2 separate regions of the Homo sapiens genome follow, and region 1 is linked to region 2. Evidence: fine-mapped QTL for protein levels in blood plasma. Region 2 holds a variant in brackets. A gene starts in the other region. All regions are shown on their forward strands.

Region 1 (9,256 bases), not on the chromosome of region 2:
GCTGCTTGGAGTGTGTCCCGGCTCAGGGGTGGCTGCAAAGGCACTCAGGCTGCTGCCCATGCACTTGTCTACCTTCCTGTACAGTCAGCCCCTTTATATATGGCATGAAATTCATCTCTCTGTCCAACAGTTGTTAAGAGGCCCTTGTGAGCTAACCTCTGAATGGGAAGAAATAATTCTCCCTTCCCAGCTGCCAGTCTAATTCAGAACGTGTCCACAAATCCAGGGCACAGAAACAAACGGAAACACAGAACTGTACAACTATAAAAGTATTTGCACAAAGCCAAAACATCTTCCTTCTTTCTCTCTCTTTGGCATTTATTTCAGACCCACAGTGATTTTTTACAAAAGATCGTAGCTCACCTTGTCGATGAAGGAGGCAAACTTATTGTTGAGGGTCTTGATCTGCTCGCGCTCCTCGGTCCTCACCCTCTGGATGCTGGGGTCGATTTGCAGGTTGAGGGGAGTCAGGAGACTCTGGTTGACAGTGACCTCTTGGATACCTCCAGGAGGGCAGACAGGAAAGCCAGGGCCACCGAAGCCACCTCCAAAGCCAGCTCCGCCACCGAGCCCAAAGCCACCACCAGCTCCACCGCCGAAACCAAATCCACTACCGGCACCACCTCCAAAGCCATAGCCGCCTCCAGCACCAGCACCAAACCGGTTCCTGAAGCTGCCACCACTAGTGCTGATGGATATCCTCTTGGAGCCCCCCAGGTTGTAGAGGCTCCGGCTGCCATAGCCACCCACTCCACAAGCACCCGCAAGGCTGACCCTGCCGAAGCCACCACCACCGCCACCCCCGGACCGGGACACGGAGGTGAAGCTGGTGCGGGAGACAGACGGGGTGATGGCAGAGGCGGTGCTGAAGCTACGACTGCCCCCGCTCCGGAAGGACACACTTGACTGGCGAGACATGGTGGCTTGTTCCTGGTGGAGCAAGAGAACCAGGCACTAGTGGGTTGGGAGGTGCTGGAGAGAACAGAGCTCAGCAGGACGCAGAAGGTGGCTCTGTTACCCAGGAACGGTGATGCCCCCTTTTTATCCCTTCCAGAACTGGGCTGGGCGAGAGAGCTGTCGAGCTGTGAATGATTAAGTGGGCTGGGCATGCCTGGGGGGCAGCTGTGAGCTCACCGGTCACACCTGCACAGTGGTGTGGGGTGCAAACGCTTTCTTCCTGGCAGGCTCTGCTCAGTTAGAAATAACCTTGCCTTGCAGCACTGATCTCTTGGCAGCAAGTTGGTGACGCTGCTAGCAAGTATGTCTTCACCATAGAGGCTGGGGGCTGTGAGCAGCCCAAAAAGGATGCCAGGAACTGAGGGGGCATTGGCATGGCCAGTGTCCTGGGGACTCTTACAGGACCAGGAGTATTGACAACCATCCCAGTACGGTACATGCTGAGCACCTGCCCTTCCAGCTTGGGGAAGCTGTCCATCAGCGGGGGGCAAACGATTCCCCAGTGATCTGCTCTTACACTTTTCCAGGCAGCAGGTTGCTGCAGGGTTTTCCCCTCTGGGAAAGGCAATCTGTAGCCTTATATTCTTGGTTATGTGCTAGAGGGAAAATAGAGTTTCATCCTTTTCTGCACAATTTTTTTCTTAGGGAAGGCACAGCTATCCCAGAGCCCACTGGGCAGATCTGCCTGCAAGGTTTAGGCCAGAGAATGTGGGAAGCCCTCAGCGCCCCCTATAAACCACTTTGACCTCTTTAAGGCCAGGTTTATCCTTCCATAGCTCCTCCTAACTCAGCATTTTTTCTGCCCTTTGACCTTTTCCTTGCTCTTTGGCCTGGGCAGGACTCTGTGGGGGGTTTAGGAAACCCGGGGATCCCATGCAATCCCTTAAAAAAAAACCCTGAGACTCATGGGCTATAGCGTCTCTCTTTGGGGGTAGCTACTCTGCCGGTTCCCCAGCCCCCCAGGTGTGTTCCAGCAAGCTCTATTCCACTAGGGAAGAAATGAGTCATCGTATGTGTTGATACAGGCTGAAGGCCGCCACAAACACATACCTGCAGGAGCTTCTAATCTCATCAGGAACATGTTGAGAGTCTGACGGCCTGTTATAACGGCGAACCACCCTGTTCCAAGCAGCGGGACTTGCTCTGCTTTCTCTATGCTGTAGCCCACAGCCTCCTTCAGGGCCAAGGCAATGGAAAACGGGATTCTAAGTCTATGGATTGTCCTGCCAGAAAGGCTAGCCAGAGCAGGCCTGTGGGCCCAGGCAGCTGGCATGACAATCTGCCAGCTGCTTTAGGGAGGGCCCTTTGAGATCCCCTCTGCAAAACTTGTCTGGGGGGTTGTGGCACCAGGTGGAGGAAAGGGGGTTTCTGATGAGGTTTTAACACACGTCTGTTCTAAACCACACCCACTCTTTTTGGCAGCAGATCTGAGTGGGGCCACCTCTCTGCCGTCCCCCAAATAGAAGCAGGGCTCTCAGGCAGGACAGTGCTTGGGCTGTTCAGAGTTTCGGGGGCGCCCTGTGGCCCGAGGCTGGAGGTAGGAATGCAATGGGGATGGCTTCAAAGCCTCAGGGAGGAGGGGCTATATTCTCAAGAGTAGAAGAACAGGACCAGACCCAGGCTCAGGAATCTCTCACCAGGGCCTGCGGTTGGCCACAAGGAAGCCAAGGCAGTGGGAAAATGACTCCCTGGTGCTGAGGATCAGCTGAAACAGTGACTTCTCACCAGAGGGCTGCGATGAGCAAGCAGCTGACAGGTCAATCTCGGCAGACAGACCAATGGCCGGAGCCGGTCTTACAGGTCTTGAGCAAAATGGTTTGGGTGGCCTCCCTGGCTGGAGCATTTCTGAGACCCTCAGAGATGAATTGTGCTGAGCTCACCATTTTCACATTTGGTTGCTTTCTGGAGAACAGATGTGAGTGTCCTGGAGGCCTGAGACATACCAGGGGACCCTCGGCTCCTGATAGAACAGAACAGATCCAAGCCTGAAGCAAGTGTCTGAGGACTCGTAGTGGGATGCTCCTGCTCCACTCAAAGATCGATATCGGGGTATATCCCCACCACCACATACACTCACAGGTCCCGGGTACAGACCTCACTGCCCTCAGGGAAGCCCCACCCCTCCTGAGACACTGGGACATTCTCTTCTCCCCATTCATTCTCCTCCCAGCTGTGTTGTGAAGAAAGAGGACTTGGCAGAGCAGGAATGCGTTCTGGCTAGTCTGAGGATTGCTAGAGTGTGCCAAGCTCAGATCCATGTGCCAGGGACCAACGGTGAGTGTGTGGTGCTCCATGGGAGCAGGGAGCATGTGGGTGCTCCATGGGAGAAGCAGCAGCACTCTTCTATCCGAGCTTCGTGGGAATCCTCCCATGAGCAGGCAGGGCAGCCCCTCCCTCAATGCCAGACCTGGACAGGTATAAATAATGGAGCCGCTCCTGGTGGGGAGCCAGGCACCAGCACCACTGCAGCTCGGGAGAGTCCCACCCCAGCCTGGAATTTCACTGTGGCAGGAAGGGAGGGATTGTGTTAGGCTCACCAGGGAGCTTTCCTGCTGGGCACCCCACAGAGGCAGTTCCCAGGCTTGGTGGGACATGTTGCTCAGCTTCTCCTCTGGGTGCTGCTTTCCTTGTCAGCAGAAGACAGTGCAGGGCCCGCCCTGCTGCTCTCCCCATCAGAGAAAGGACAGTAAGCTGGCTGCCCTGACCTCTCTCGCAGAGCTGTGCAGGGAATGTAGGACCTGGTCAGCATTTCATACATGGAGAAGCCCTTCACAGACACCAGGGAGAGGGTGGTATCCATTCGTGGAACAAGGGTTAGGCAAATCCTGCCATCCCAGCCCAGGATTCCTTCTCCTCAGAGCCTCCACTCCAATCTGTAGGGCTTTAGTAGAAGATACATTTAATAGAGCATGATAAATAGAACATGTTCCATAAAACAGCATTTGTACATATCCTCTAAGTCCCCCCCAGCAGGGCAGTCTCCAAGGTTAGGGAACATCTCTGCATGGCCCACACCCTCAGCCCAGCCTTGGGCACTGGAAGTGTTCTGCAGATATTTTTTGGAGTGAATTGACAGACAGAAAATCCTCTTCCTCCGCTCCTTCCCCAGATTGTTATGTGAAGCCCACAATGGCAAGAACCTCAATTGCTTTTGCACCAACCTATATCTACACCAACCTATGTATAACAGAATGTATATACATTATATATATTCACATATATTTCTGTGAATCCTCCAGCCCTATGCTGAGTCTCAGAGTCTTGTCCATCTGATTTTGTCTCTCAGTCCGTGTCTACAGGATGAGTCTGTTGTCCCCTTCACACTGGGTATGCTCTGTGTTTAGGATTTAGGATTTAATCTAGCATTTAGGATTCTTTATTCCTTAGGCTTCCCTCCATCCTTCTTCTTCCCTCACCCTTATTCTGAGGGTGTTCTGCATCTGAGCCCACTAACAAGTAGCCTGCACGTGCCACCCCAGCCCCCAGGCCCCTCCAGGAGAGAAAGAAAGCTTTAGTGGCCTCAACTTTGCAGCCCTTCCACCTCACGCTTGTTCAGCACAAAAAGTGGGGAGCAATAGTTGAGGTGTGAGTCACCCTATTCATTGGGCTATGGTTGGCAGCCCCATCAGGGAGCCTGCAGCCAGATTCGCAGGATGGGGAAGGGCAGATGGAACAGCGGGCCAGCCCAAGATAGCTCTTCACAAAGCCCTAGCCTCAGGGGGAATTGAGGGAAGAATTTTCCTGCCTCCACCCAAAGCCAGCGGAATCTTGCCCCCATCCCAACCTGGGTCCCAGCTCTGGTCCTAGCTAGATTCTCAGAATCACAGGGCCCTGAGGGGAGTGGCCACTCTGGATCTGCAGAGCTGGACACACCACCCCCTCCCTCCTACAGCCCAATGTCTCTAGGGCTTTCAGACCCCAGTCTGAAAACCGGACTAGGTAGAAAGGCAAATGTCCAGACATAAAGCAACTGCTCAGCCTTGGCTCAGAGGGCCTTTGGAGGTGAGTCCCTGCTGCCATTATTGAGGTCATAGTGACAAGTTACCCCCTGGAGTTGAGTTTTTCTTGTGCACGGGCTTCGCACACATTGTGGGTCACAGCATAGGTGCAAAAGCATGTGGCACCACTCCAGACCATGTGTTGGTCCTGACCCAGTCCTTGGATGGGTCTGGGACCCTGAGCAAGTTGCCTAACCTCTCACTGCATAGTTTTGTCCAGTGCAGCTGGGAGAGAAGGGAGGGGCCTGGGCTCATTGGAGGGGCCATGCAAGCTGGAATTTTAATTTTGAGCTGGCTGGGGCTGAGCAGGAAGGGAGGGGCAGGCCTGCAGGGGGCTGTGGGGAGCAGCCTTGGCCCCCATCCCTTAGATTCAGCAGCCGATTGGCCCTGGCAGGAGAGGGTGCAGAGCAGAGCCCTCCGCTTCCCTCCAGCAGGCCCCTGCAAGTCTGAGGAATGTTCTTCCCTCGTATGAAAGGTGTTTTGCTCATGGCACACCAAACTCTTTGAAAATCCCCCTTGGTTGATTGAAACTATGGGCTGGAAATCAACAAATACTTTAATTAGTCAGAGGGACTAAAAAAGGATATACAGCAAAATCCTCTGCGCTTTGCTTTCTCATAGAGGGTGGTTTTATTTTTTAAATAAACACTTACGTAGGAGTGACCATGTGCCAGGCACTGCCCTGCACACTTTACATATATGAATATGAAACTAGAGCATGCAAAGAAGGGCTCTTAGCACTTCCTCAGCTTGGCTGTCCAATGTAGGTGTCAGTGTGTCCCATACTCTGGGGATTTGCAGCCTCCCTCTTCAGTGGAGAGGCAGAGACATGACTCATTTACACCAGGTTGTATCCCTGCAGCATCAGAGGTGCAGAAGGAAGCTTGCTGACATCCCCAACTCACCCACTGTTCCATTTCTCCCTGCTACTTTCTGTTCTCTCACCAGTAGCCACAACTGGGAACGGGGAGGCAGAGGAGACGCTACAGCTGCCCCCCTCCCCAAGTTTGTGTTTGGCTCAGGGCTTCCTGGTCCTGGGAGGGAGGGCAAGTGCCGGAGACAGAGCCTTATTCCATCTGGCTTTCCTGCTTTGGGTGAGCACTGATCATGGGTGGGGGGAAGGTGGGGTGAGTCAGGTGAGCTCTGATCATGGGTGGAGGGCAGGTGGGGTGAATCAGTACAGAAGGTGGTAATATGGTGAGGGAGAAAAGAAAGTAAATGACAGCATTGAGGCTGGAGCTGTTGCCTCTCCCAGGGCCACCCTCAGGAAATGCACTCGGCATCTGCACAGTCCTCAAGGCCATGGGACACCTTGCTGGCCCCAGTCCCACCGTCTATGTGAGACTGTGACCCTGTGTCCTTCCCCATTTCCTCCCTCAGACTCCAGGACACACTCGCAGCTCCCATCTTCATGTTCCGTGAGCACATGTGAACACTGACCTGCTCACTGTCCACTTGGACCAACGATCACTGTTGAGGGTTTGTGAAAACAGGTTAAGGCTTCTTCCAAGGGAGACGCAGTGCAAAAAGCAACTGAGACAAGAGAGCGTGCAGGAGTGTTTCAATTCATGCCAGTCATTGAATCAGGTCCTGTTCCACATGTGTGACTTGGCCAAGGCAGATGCCATGCACTGGACTTCTGGACTCTGGTTGTGTGACCCTGTACCCTTCCCCATTTCCTCCCTCAGACTCCAGGACTGCGAACAGGGCTGGGTCTCCTCTAGGATCTCCTTACCAGACCCAGGATGGTGGCCCACACCACTTGACAGTGACGGGTCACTGTGCAAGGGCCGGGTTAGGGAAGCTGGCCTGACTTGGTTTCAGAGAAAAAAACCAGCCCAGTGATCCATCCATAGAGGAACAGGCTGAGTTCAGGGAGGTGGAGCCTAACGCCAAGCCCTTGGCAAGGTGAGGTGAGAGCCAAGCCTGGGTCCTGGTCCTGTCCCACACGCTGTTGTTGCCCTGCACTGCCCATCTGGGCCTCAGCAAGAGCCTACTTGTCTCCCAGTCCAAGGCTGCACGTCTCAGTCCTCTTCAGAGAGCCATTTCCCGAGGGCTGTGTGCATGACAGGGCTGACAGGTGACTGTGATGGGTGAGGGTGTTTTTACTGCTCCCCACCCCTCCCCTGTCCAGAGCCCTCATGTCCAGGTGCTGGTCTGGGTCTTTCCAGGGAGCAGACTGGCCTTCAAGCCTAAGTTAGCACCGAAGCCTGTTCCTCCAAGGCATTTGTCTGCTCTAGGCCATGAGGTCCCACCAGTCTGCAGACGCTGATCGCCTCTACTCCAGTGGCTGATAATAAGGAGTTAGAATTCACACATGACTCCCTCTGCCCGTGCCCAGAGCCTCACAGTACTTAGCTGGGCCTCCAGTCAAACCCACATCCTCTGTAACAGTTGTCAAGGACTCCCACTATTTCTTGCTCATTCACAAGTCCCTGGTCCCCAGGGCCTTTCGGCCTCACCTCCACTCTCCAGCCAGGTGGATCCCTTCACAGCCTCAACCCCATGTCGGCCGGTTCCCGATTTAATGTTAGAGGGTCAGTGCTCAGTGCTGGTTCTGCCTGCTCCCTCCCTCCCTACACTGTGCCTCCCCACTCCCATCTTCTCTGGCACAAAACGTGAAACAAGGACCCAGATGCCTTCTCTGGCAGTCTCTTGCAAATGGGGGAGATGTGGAGATGTATCTGACGATTTCTAGGCAGCTTGTCTCTCTGAAGTTCTGGACTTTCATGATCCCCAAAAAGCTCACAGCATGGGATGAGCCTGAGCCCTCGATGTGCTCTGTGGCTTGGTGAAAGATGACAGCAATCACCACACTTGAGTGGCACTGACTGTGAGCCAGGCATGGTTCTGGATGTATCAACTCATTTACTCCTCACAGCCTCGTGGGGTGGGCCTAATATGATCCCTGTTTTGCAGATGAGGAAACTGATGCCCTGAGAGGGTAAGCAACTGGCAAGTGACAGAGCCTAGGTAAGAGCCCAGGCAAGGGTGTCTCCAAAAGCCCTTGTCATCACCATTGTGGGCACTTGGATTTTCAGTGCAGGACTTGTGATTTGACTCTGAAGAGGATGACTTCAGCAGAGGCCTCAACCTCCGGATAGTCTGTGAAGGCAGCAAACAGAGAGGGCCCCAGATACCACTCAGCAGTCAGTATACCATAACATCTTCCAGCAGCCCCAAGAGAGAGGGACCCCTGCCCTGGAGTATAGACAGGGGAGGTGCCCTTGGAGACCCCCTCCCTTCTCTGAACTGCCAGAACCCAGGGCAGGACCACTAAGACTCTGGGGCAAGACTCAGGGGATTGGGGTTCCCTATAAAATCCTATACAATGTCCTCAAGGGGGAAGCCTGGGGATCGCCTGACACCCATCTCCCTCCTACCCTGGCACTAGGCCCAGGGCAAAGCCCAGATGCTTCCTGGGGCAGTCCTTCCAGATGCATGAGACGTGGCTAACAACTGCTGATACTTCCTAATACCTTGGGAGTAGCCCAGTGTCTTGGCCCAAGCTTCAGCGATTCGCTCTATTCCTCCCCTCTCCAAACCCCACAACCGCTTATGGCCAAGACACTCAAACAGGGCCCTGCAACACTTTGTTCAGGATGAGCAGAGGCCATGATCAGGAGAGTATGAAATGGAATAACCCAGCCTGAGCATTATTTGGCATTTTGGATCCTTTGGGATGGGCCAAACCACCCTGTGGCCTCTTAGAGACTGACCAGCTCCTTGCATGAGGCTGCCCCACTTAGAAAAGAAATTAGCACCATTCACTGAGATATGTAGCCTCGTTGCTTTTGGTGATACTGGACCTGATTTCCTCCAGCCCTTCTTTGAAGTGAATGGATACTGAGTGCTTACTGTGTGCCTGACATTGTGCCAAAATGTAGCATGCGTTATCTTACTTACTATTCATCCATATTCATCCACAGGTGATCAGCACTACTATTTGTCCCGTTTTCTGAGCCTCAGAAAGGAACATGTCTTACCTAAGCTCATATGGATAATATTTGTCAAAACTGGAATTTGACCCCAGGTCTGGCTGCTCCTAGAGCTTATGCTCTCAATCAGCACATAAGGGGAATTGCTGAGGGGACCCTGAAGAGCCAGTATCCCCGTCAGCAACATCAGCAGCCCATATACTGAAGTCACGCAAATAGACATGCCACTTAAACAAAATGGTATGCTCCTCTGCAAACCAGCTTTGACACAGACCTGCCATGCCACCGCCCCTCCTAACCAGATCGCCACCTCTAAGCCCCAAGCCCTACCCAGGAAGAAATTCTGGGGGTACCACTAGGGTC
Region 2 (9,300 bases):
TCATGTAAGTCAACAACATCCTGGGATTGGGACCCACTTTCTGGGCACTGCTGGCCAGTCCCAAAATGGAACATAAGGAAGTGGTTCTTCTACTTCTTTTATTTCTGAAATCAGGTAAGACATAGTTTTTTTAAATTATAAGAATTATTTTTTCTCCCACAATGTAGTAAAAATACATATGCCATGGCTTTATGTGCAATTCATTTAATTTTTGATTCATGAAACTTCCAGTTGAAAATCTTGTATAAGATTGAGGAATTCTTCAAGAAATAAGTTTAAGTTTCCTGTGAAGATTGTCAGGGTGCTGGAATGAATGGGCAGAGAAAATAATGGGTGATTTTTCAAATCTAAATGAGTGCACCCACATAATGGCCAGTCTAATTGAAAAAGAGCCAATGTAGCTAATTATGCAAAGGACGGCTAAGCTCTTTGCCTGGTTCTCAGTTTGACTAATTTATATCATCTCTGTTACGGTGTCATGCTCCCCTCACTTGCAAGTTAAAACAGTGAAATATCTCTTTGAATATATTCCGTTCTCTCACCAGTTCATGGTGGCGGCAGGGTCGGGGACTCAGCATTTCTCCCTTTGTTATGGCCTGAGGAAGGCTTTCCATCAGTATACGTTTGCCTCTTATCCCCGGAAAAATCACACGCATCCATTTGCCAGATGCTGTGTGCAGATAGTGATCAACAAATACTCAGTTGCTTGGGTTAGGTCCCTACATTTTTACACATACATACATACCTGTGTGTGAATGTGAGTGTGAGTGTGTATCCTTTACAAATACTAGCTTATTTAGCTCGTGGTATAGGTAGGGTAGCATATTCATCCTCATTTTATAAACAAAGAAATCAGACTTAGGAATATCATGTTATTTGCTCAGTGACCAAATTCTCAGATCTGGGAAATAAAGAAAACTGGATTTAAGCCAGGTTTCCCAGAAGGAATCTAGGGCTCTTCTCACTTTTCAGCTTTGTTTAAGCCTTTGAAAGAATATTCTAAACATGTCCTAGTACTTCTTTTTCTTTAAAAAAAAAAAAGCTTTATTGAGATATAATTAACATATAGAATTCACCCATTTAGGCATACAATCCAATGGATTTCAAGATATTGAGAGTTGTGCAGCCACCATCAGAATAAATTTTAAAACTATTCATACCCCCAAAAACGCACTCCACTCTCCTTAGCTGTTACCCCCAATCTGCAGCTTCTGGCAACCACTAATCTACTTTCTGTATTTATATCTTTGCCATTTTGAACATTTCATACAAACGGAATCATACGATTTGCTAGTAGTTCTTCATGTAAATAATGTACGCTTGAAATTCAATCTATAAATTACCAGATAAAATTTTACAAGTTGCACTTTAGAGTCAAATACATTTGAATTTAGTGGAAGCCATTCAAGGAGCTATCAAAGAAAATACAGAGCAGGAGAAAATTAAAGAAATTTTTGTAAGAAATTGGTGTATGTTGGGGGGTATGAATATTATATTTCAATGCATGGAAACTAGGACATAGATCACTATGAACTTATTCAGTGGGCTACACCCAAAGGCTAGATCAAACTTCTCTGCCACAGGATTAACATATGTTTTAACCCACCTGGTGGGCACATTCTCTCATAAGCTCTTTTGGAAAGCCAGGTTTTCTGTGGATGTATCATCTTTCCAGTGTGCTGCAATGCCCGGGGAGAGGGAAAAGTTTCTTTTACAGCCATGCTTAGTGGGAAGTGGAGAAACATCTTCCATTTCACAAATTAAGTCTTTTACACATGCAAATATGCATACACATTCACACACCACAGTGAGGAAGAAATTCTCACACCATTAATAAAATACATTTGCATCAGTAGCAATATACATCTGCATTTTGCCTATAATATAAATGTATTTTTCCACTAAAAGATTTGTTTGATGTTTCCTTGCCAGCAAATAAGCCCTATCAAATCCTATTGCCATATGAGTCCTAGAGGTGAATAAGAGAAGAAAAAATGGGGGAAAATTATTTCAAACTGAAAAGAGAAAAGTTTGATTCTGTTTTGGGATATTTCCTAGGGACATGAGCTGGGGAGGGGATCTCAGCAGCGATGCGCTATGAAGCATAGTAACATAACACAGAGAACTTAATTGAAGGGGGAAATAAATGGAAGTTTTCTTTTTTTGAATATCAGTTGTAGCCTGCTCTGCTATACTTCAAAAAAACTCTTCAGAAAGTTTAACTGAACTCACTGTAGGACACACTTTGTGGATTTATTGTGTGTTTTGAAGTCACACTGTGAGCTATATAGAATTAACCAAAACACAACTCTTCTTGAAAATGAGAGTTCAAGTTGGCAGAAAGTGCGGGGTAAAGACATGGATATGGGCCTAAAGCATCTATTTCTTTGTGATCTTTTGATATATCTCTCAAGTGCTTTTTAGTGGATTAGCTTTAGAATGCATCAGCCAACTCCTGCTCAATAATCCATTTTTCCAGCCCGGAATGTCTTAAATTGAGGAAGGACAAAGTCCCAGAGGTGGGGAGCAGGGGGACTTTGGCCGAGGACTTTGCATGAATCGATGAGCATGCATCCACCTCCCTGTCCTGCCCCTTGTGCTCTGTGTACCCTCAGGAGGTCAGGACAGGCCTTTCTGAGAATGAAAATCTGTTCATTTGCTTTCCTACTGGATACTTGTCATCAGCATACAAACCAATGCGCTCTGCAGTGTGTCATCTTTCAGAACCTCCCCTGACCGCATGTTCCCTGGAGGGCTCGCTGTCTTCAGAGCCAGGCTTGTCTCCTGCTGCAGCCTCCACTGCTCTCCTAGTCACTCTGTAACCCACCCCCTCTGCCTGCGGCCCCCACCACGCCCCTCAAAGTGGTCAAGGTTGTCCTGTTGTCTAATTCCATGGAGCTTGCCTGTCTTCATTTTATTAGCCTCTTTTGGCCTCTCACCCTTGTGCAAATCACTAGCATTCTGTGCCAAGGACGGAGCTGGCATCTCCAGGCTTGGAATAGAGCTACCAAAGCTCAGCCAGATGTCTGGAAGAGCCTCAGGACAAGGGGACACCCTGTAGCCTTGTGGTGGGAGCACAGCTGAGGCCCCCTTGGCCACCCTCTGCCACGACCAGGCAGAAAGCAGCTTTCGGACAGATTCGTTGTCTCAGATTTGATCTCAAAGAAAAACCAAGACCAGTATTTGTCCCAGGTCCTGCTTTTTTACAATTTCCTCCGAAATCCAGATACCTGTCAACACCTTGGAAAAACTGACTTCTCCCCAATTAGTAGTGTTGTGTGACTGTCATAAGCCCAGTACAAAAATGGCCTTCTTTGTTGGGGAGCTTCTTACCCTCCAGTGTTTTGCCCAATTTTTGTCCAAGGTGGCAACATAATTTAGTTCAGTTCTTGTTTATTTCCACCATCATCTATGCACCAAAATTTATGTTTCTCAAGGAGGGACCATTCAGAGGATGCTTCCCACCGGTTCAAGTGACAGTGCCAGAACCAAAGCGCATATTGTAGGAAATCAAACAATGGCCTCCAAGTTCCATTTCTACCCAGGGATGAACAAATCAACATCAATCTTGGTAACACAACTGCCACTGATGGTGCCTTACTCTTCTCTCATGACATGGCACAATCAATAGCAAACATAAAATTTGTTCTTGTTTAAGGATTTATATCCACTAATATGGTAACATAGTAGTGGTTCCATAGTTCTAACCTGTTTGTCAATCCAGTTAATCTTTTACTATCTTGCAATCTGCTAATGAAACTGTTTTTCTTTGTTTTATAATTTCAACTTTTAGAGTCAGGGGTACATGTGCAGGTGTGTTACATAACTAAATTGCGTGACACTGAGCTTTGGGGTACAAATGATCCCATCACCCAGGTAGTGAGCTAAATACCTACTAAATAGGTAGTTTTTCAGCCCTTGCCTTGCTCCCTCTCTCCCTTCTCTGGTAGTCCCCAGTGTCTTTAGTTGCCATCTTTATTTATGTCCAAATGCCCGACTGTGTGTTCTTAACTAAACATTTTGATTCATAGCTACCCATTCTACTTCCAGTAAACAGAAAGTTTTATTTGGTTAATGCTAACCAAATAGATTAAAAGGAAGTCATGACAATTAGACATTGACATTGATTTACTGACCATTTATTCCACTTGGATCTCCCACCTCTAGGTCAAGGAGAGCCTCTGGATGACTATGTGAATACCCAGGGGGCTTCACTGTTCAGTGTCACT[A/G]AGAAGCAGCTGGGAGCAGGAAGTATAGAAGAATGTGCAGCAAAATGTGAGGAGGACGAAGAATTCACCTGCAGGTATTTCCATTGTCGTTGCACCTACGCAGGAATCTGTAATTCAGATGGCAAGTAATTTACTCACAAATTTATTAATGATTTAAGAGGAAAGAGAAATTTATGGAGCCAGAGTTTGGAACTATATTTGCTCACAGTATGTGAAGCCATACTAACAGCTTCTTGTTAAGGTTTATTGGAGTCTTTGTTAGAAAAATACCCTCAAAGGAAGTTATTTGTTTTTACACCGGACACAAACATTAGCAGTTATTGTTCTGAGCTCCAGTTTTCAACATCATCATCAGTAAATGTTTGTTGAGGATCAGGTGAATGAAAGTGTCCTAGATAGATCTGAGCAATGACTTATAGCTACAAGATCCAGTGCCTGCCCTTTAGTATTTAAGGTGTAGTCAAAGAAACTGGATATAATGTTAAAAAAAAAAAAAAGACAGCCCAAGTGAGGTACAGGCATAATCAATGCATGCTCTACCCAGATCCAGAAGAAAGAACAGTGCCTAAGGTTGAGGCAGCTAGAGAAGGCTCAGGGAGGAGGTGGGAACTGAGCTGGGTTTGGAGTTGAGAGAGCTCTTGACAAGCACCAGGAAGGCAGGGGAAGATGCGGCCCTGCACCTTCTGAGGGGGACCATTAAGAGATGAAGTTGACTAAAGCAGAGACTTTGTGTAGGTGACGGGCTTGGGAAGGTAGCTATGGAATCCAGACTGAGCACCCATAGCAGGACCACGGGATGGAGATGGGAGGGGTCAGGGGCCAGGGTGGGGTGGAATGTGGAGCAGAGGTTCAGGGGAACTGATCAGAGTTGGGAGGTCATGGAGACGGACTATCTTGGCGAATGGGTTCAAAGCAACCAGAGTTGCTTCTTTCCAACCCAAAAACAAAAATTAAGAAGATGAGTGAAGAAGAAGTAAAGCAGTTGAAACAGGAAGAAAGGGAAAATTATGAGGGAGGGAAGGTAAGGGCAGATAAGATTTGCTGCCACGTTGGTGTATTTTGTTCAGTACTTCATCGATGCCATGCCCAAATAACTGAAAGAGGCAGCAATTCTGAGCTCTCTGGTCCCTCAAGATATTCAATGATCTTTAGCATGTCTCACTTATTAATAAACATTTGTTTTCTTTAAATAAAGAAAAATACTTATTGGATTTCCTGCTTCGTTCTGCAGGGCATTCCAATATCACAGTAAAGAGCAACAATGTGTGATAATGGCTGAAAACAGGAAGTCCTCCATAATCATTAGGATGAGAGATGTAGTTTTATTTGAAAAGAAAGGTGAGTACATTTTCTTCCTCCTCCTCCTACTGTCCTCCCCATCCTCCCACTCTTCCTCTTTCTCTATTCTATCTTTAATTTATAAGACCAGAGGAGGAAGGCACTATCGTGTTATAAAACTGAATTCTGAGTTAGGACAGGATTTGATTACTAACTAACCATGTCAGCTTGAGTGTATTACTTCACCTCTTAGATTTAATTTTTTTTGTTCAAAAGATGAAAGGATTAGATTTACAAAATCACTTCTACCTCTATGACCCTGAAAATAAGATTTTTAAAATATTATTTTATATTTAACAAGGAGATGGGAAGTCTAAGCATTCCTTTTGGTCTTGGCTTCTTATTCTGCAGGGTGACCATGGTCCTTGGGCCCTAACATCTGGATGAAGCCTTGTAAAACAGAAATACTGAGGTGTTTTAATCCTCAGAAACATTTAGATTGGGACACAAATCTTATTTTTACTCTTAAATTTTTCACATTTTGGGGGACATGGTCTATATTTTTCTCAGATTTCTGAAATGTTGTCTTTTAAAAATGTGTAAAAGTTACAGTTCCTTTTCTATAGTTTATTTTAAAATGTGGGTCAATAGTCCCACTGCTTAGAATAAGAGGCAGACAGGATTTCAATAGAAATTGCATGCCTTTTTAGATGTGCAAATGTTTCATTAAGCATTTCCCATCAAGTATATCCCATCAAGTATGCTCCCATTAAGCATATCCCATCAAGTATAAATATTTGAAGGGATGCATGACACTTTAAAAACTGTTTCCTCTACTGTGTTGGTAGCCAGGTATTAAGACTGTTAATAGTAACAATTTAGCTCTCCAAACATTCTGCATCCCAGGTGTTAAAGAGGACTGGAAACACCTTAGTTCTTGTATTCTTGAGGATGATTTGCCATATTGTGTCTAGTATTACGGCAAAACTCTAAGTAGCATTTTAAATAGTATTTATTTGGGTTGGAATTATTTCTATGCATTGACTCATCTTCCTGGGTTTCATTAGCTGTACGCATTGTACTTCCTTCCTTACCACTATTTATCTCGAATTCTTGAGATTAAAGTGCAGATTAAATCTAAACTTTATCTGGTGAAGTTATTAGTTCTTACAAGTAGCAAGCAAACGGTAAACTAAATAGGATCACCTAATTGTACCAGATTTTAAAAAAAAAAAACCCTGATTCTCCTGATTCTCTCTACAAAATGCTAACATTTAAATATGTCATTTGTAAATTGTTAACCAGAAGGAACATGGGAATGACTGTAGGTTGAGTTTGAAGTCTGAAGTTTGAAGGCTTAGTTTGCTTGTTTTCAAAGTGACAGAAGGGAGCAAAAGGTTATATAAACTCTGATGGGTACATACAAAAAAAAAAGAAGTGAAAAGTCAAAAGTCAGTCATTTTTTGGTCCTTGTTTCTTTGCTGTGGGATATTGACCTGCTACTAACTTACCTGCCAGGGTTTTGCCAGGAACAGTCAGTGTTAGATCACATTTACTTCTGCCACTTGCCACCAGCCACACTGCCTTCACCAAGTCCAAGACCCTATCACCACTGGTTGGGGCTACTTGTAGCTGTACACATGATCTCTAAGAAATGTAACTTCCCTGTTTAAAGCCCTTCCTAGTGCCCTTAAAATAAGACCCAAAGACTTCCCAAATGTGCTAGGGCCCAGCATTATTTAAGTAACCCCCAGCTGCTGTTTGCTTGGCTTGCTAAACTTTTCTACACTGGCCTTACTTCTGTTCCTTCACCACCCCAAGCACACACCCTCCTGCCTGGGACCCTCTTCACCTTTGTCCTGCTGTGCCAGCTCCTTCTTATCTCCTAGGTGTCAGCTCAATCATCATGTCCTTTGCAAATCTTCCTTGACCCCTAGACCTCCCTTTCACAAAGTACCTTGAGTTTACACTTTTGATGAGTGTCTTATGTCTACTGTAATACTATGTCCCAATGAAGATGTACTTGCAATCATAATACGCAGTATTGGGTTAAAAGCATTAGTTTGCTGTAGGTATGTTAGGAGCACTTTCCCCATGTGATTGATCAATTAATTAAAAAATGGCTAAAGTGGGTAACCTTAAATGATGGTGTAAATATACCTTAAACATTTTATATTTTCATTGAAAACACAAGTGTACTTGACACCTTTTGACGTAGAGCAGAGGCTTTTCTTCTTCGAATATGGGGTCACCAGTAGAAGGTCTCTGGTGTATTTCCTGCATAAACTATGCTCCAGTGCAACATCTACAATAATTACTTTCCTTATTTTTGAAGTGGACCATATCTCGACATTTATTAATCAATCTGAATGTGTAAAACCTTTAGATTTTTATGAATTCCTCCTCAAGCTTTATAGTCAACTATATGAGTGGATTGCCCTCTGTGGATTTGATAGCAATTTTTTAAATGATTCATGTTTCAACTTGTTAAAAACATTTAATTTAGTTAAAAACCAAACAAAAAAGAGCTTTGTTTCTTTTCACATTCATTTCTCAGTTTAGATCATCTTTAATTAAATATAAATGTAAGAAAGTTGGAAAATGCAAAGAAATGACTCGTTGTAAGCACATAACTCACGTGGGGGGAACAGACATGGGTGGGCACACTAGCAAACACCTGCCAGCTGCATGTGGACCCAGGTGGGCACCGGACTGTTTTAAACACAGGAGAGGGCCCGTTGTCTAACTGGTGAGTTGGTTGAGTGGAAGCTGGTTGAGAACTTTTACTGCAAACCATTTACAGTAGACCACAATTTTATAGCCCTGTTTGGCACTTTTTCATATCACTGGGAGCCTGAAGAAATAGAAGTGGGTTGGATCTCTTTCAGCCTCTGAAAAGCCTGCCATTCCCCCATCTAAAAAGCCCTTTCCCCATTCTCTCACTCTGTCTCATCATGTATGTAATATGTATCATCATTAAGTGATCTCATTTTATATTGTTTCCTTGAATATTTCCTGTAACCCCCCTGCCTGATTCCACTAGAATGTAAGCTCCATGACGGCCAAGCCTCTGGCTGCACTGTGCCCCGTGTGTCCCCAGCATCCTGGTGGGGCTCGATACACAGAGAGCTCATAAGTAGCATTTGAATACATGAATCAAAGAATGGCTCAGTTTACTGCAGCCTTTTTGCAGATGCAAAAGATGATCTTTTAGAAAGCAGAAACAGGGGGTCTGGTGCATGAGATCTTTTTCTCAACGTGACTATGCTGTGCAGACCTTCATGTGGTGTCTTGTGAAAGACTTTGACCACTGTGTGGACTTCCCTTCAGTGTATCTCTCAGAGTGCAAGACTGGGAATGGAAAGAACTACAGAGGGACGATGTCCAAAACAAAAAATGGCATCACCTGTCAAAAATGGAGTTCCACTTCTCCCCACAGACCTAGGTAAGACATTCCCTTTCATCTTTGTGTTCATCTACTGTAAAGTTGTCCCTCTGTGTCTGTGAGGGATTGGTTCCAGGACCCCTGTGGCTACCAAAATCCATGCTTCTCAAGTCCCTTATATAAAATGGTGCAGTATTTGCATATAACCTACATACCTTCTCTTGTATAATCCCTAATATAATGTAAATGCTATTTAATCGTTGTTATACTGTATTGTTTTTATTTGTATTATGTTTTATTGTCATATTGTTATTTTCTGTCATCTTTTTCAAGTCTTTTCCATCCACAGTTGGTTGAATTTGTGGATCTGGAACCCATGGATACAGAGGGCCAACTGTATTTAGGATA

Which allele goes with the higher level. Positions count from the first base shown, and alleles are read on the strand shown. Strength reflects both the effect of a copy and how common the allele is.
For the plasma level of the protein whose gene starts at base 1,016 in region 1, A is the high allele of the variant in region 2 and G is the other (moderate association).

Evidence for each region. PIP is the posterior inclusion probability: the model's chance that the variant is causal. The UK Biobank Pharma Proteomics Project read protein levels with antibody pairs (Olink). The fine-mapping took linkage between variants from a reference panel, not from the people measured, so its PIPs are less certain.
Region 1: it holds the start of KRT5, and the variant in region 2 is fine-mapped to the plasma level of the KRT5 protein (UK Biobank, PIP above 0.99).

Annotation. Positions count from the first base shown.
Region 1 is chr12:52,519,379-52,528,634 of GRCh38, forward strand. KRT5 (keratin 5) reads right to left here and starts at 1,016. Exons shown (of 9, transcript NM_000424.4): 1 at 364-1,016. The coding sequence starts at 918. RefSeq lists enhancers at 1-103, 2,923-3,888.
Region 2 is chr6:160,702,240-160,711,539 of GRCh38, forward strand. It overlaps PLG (plasminogen), which reads left to right and starts at 5. Exons shown (of 19, transcript NM_000301.5): 1 at 5-114; 2 at 4,168-4,303; 3 at 5,461-5,567; 4 at 8,838-8,952. The coding sequence starts at 66. The variant A/G (reference allele first, on the strand shown) is at 4,230.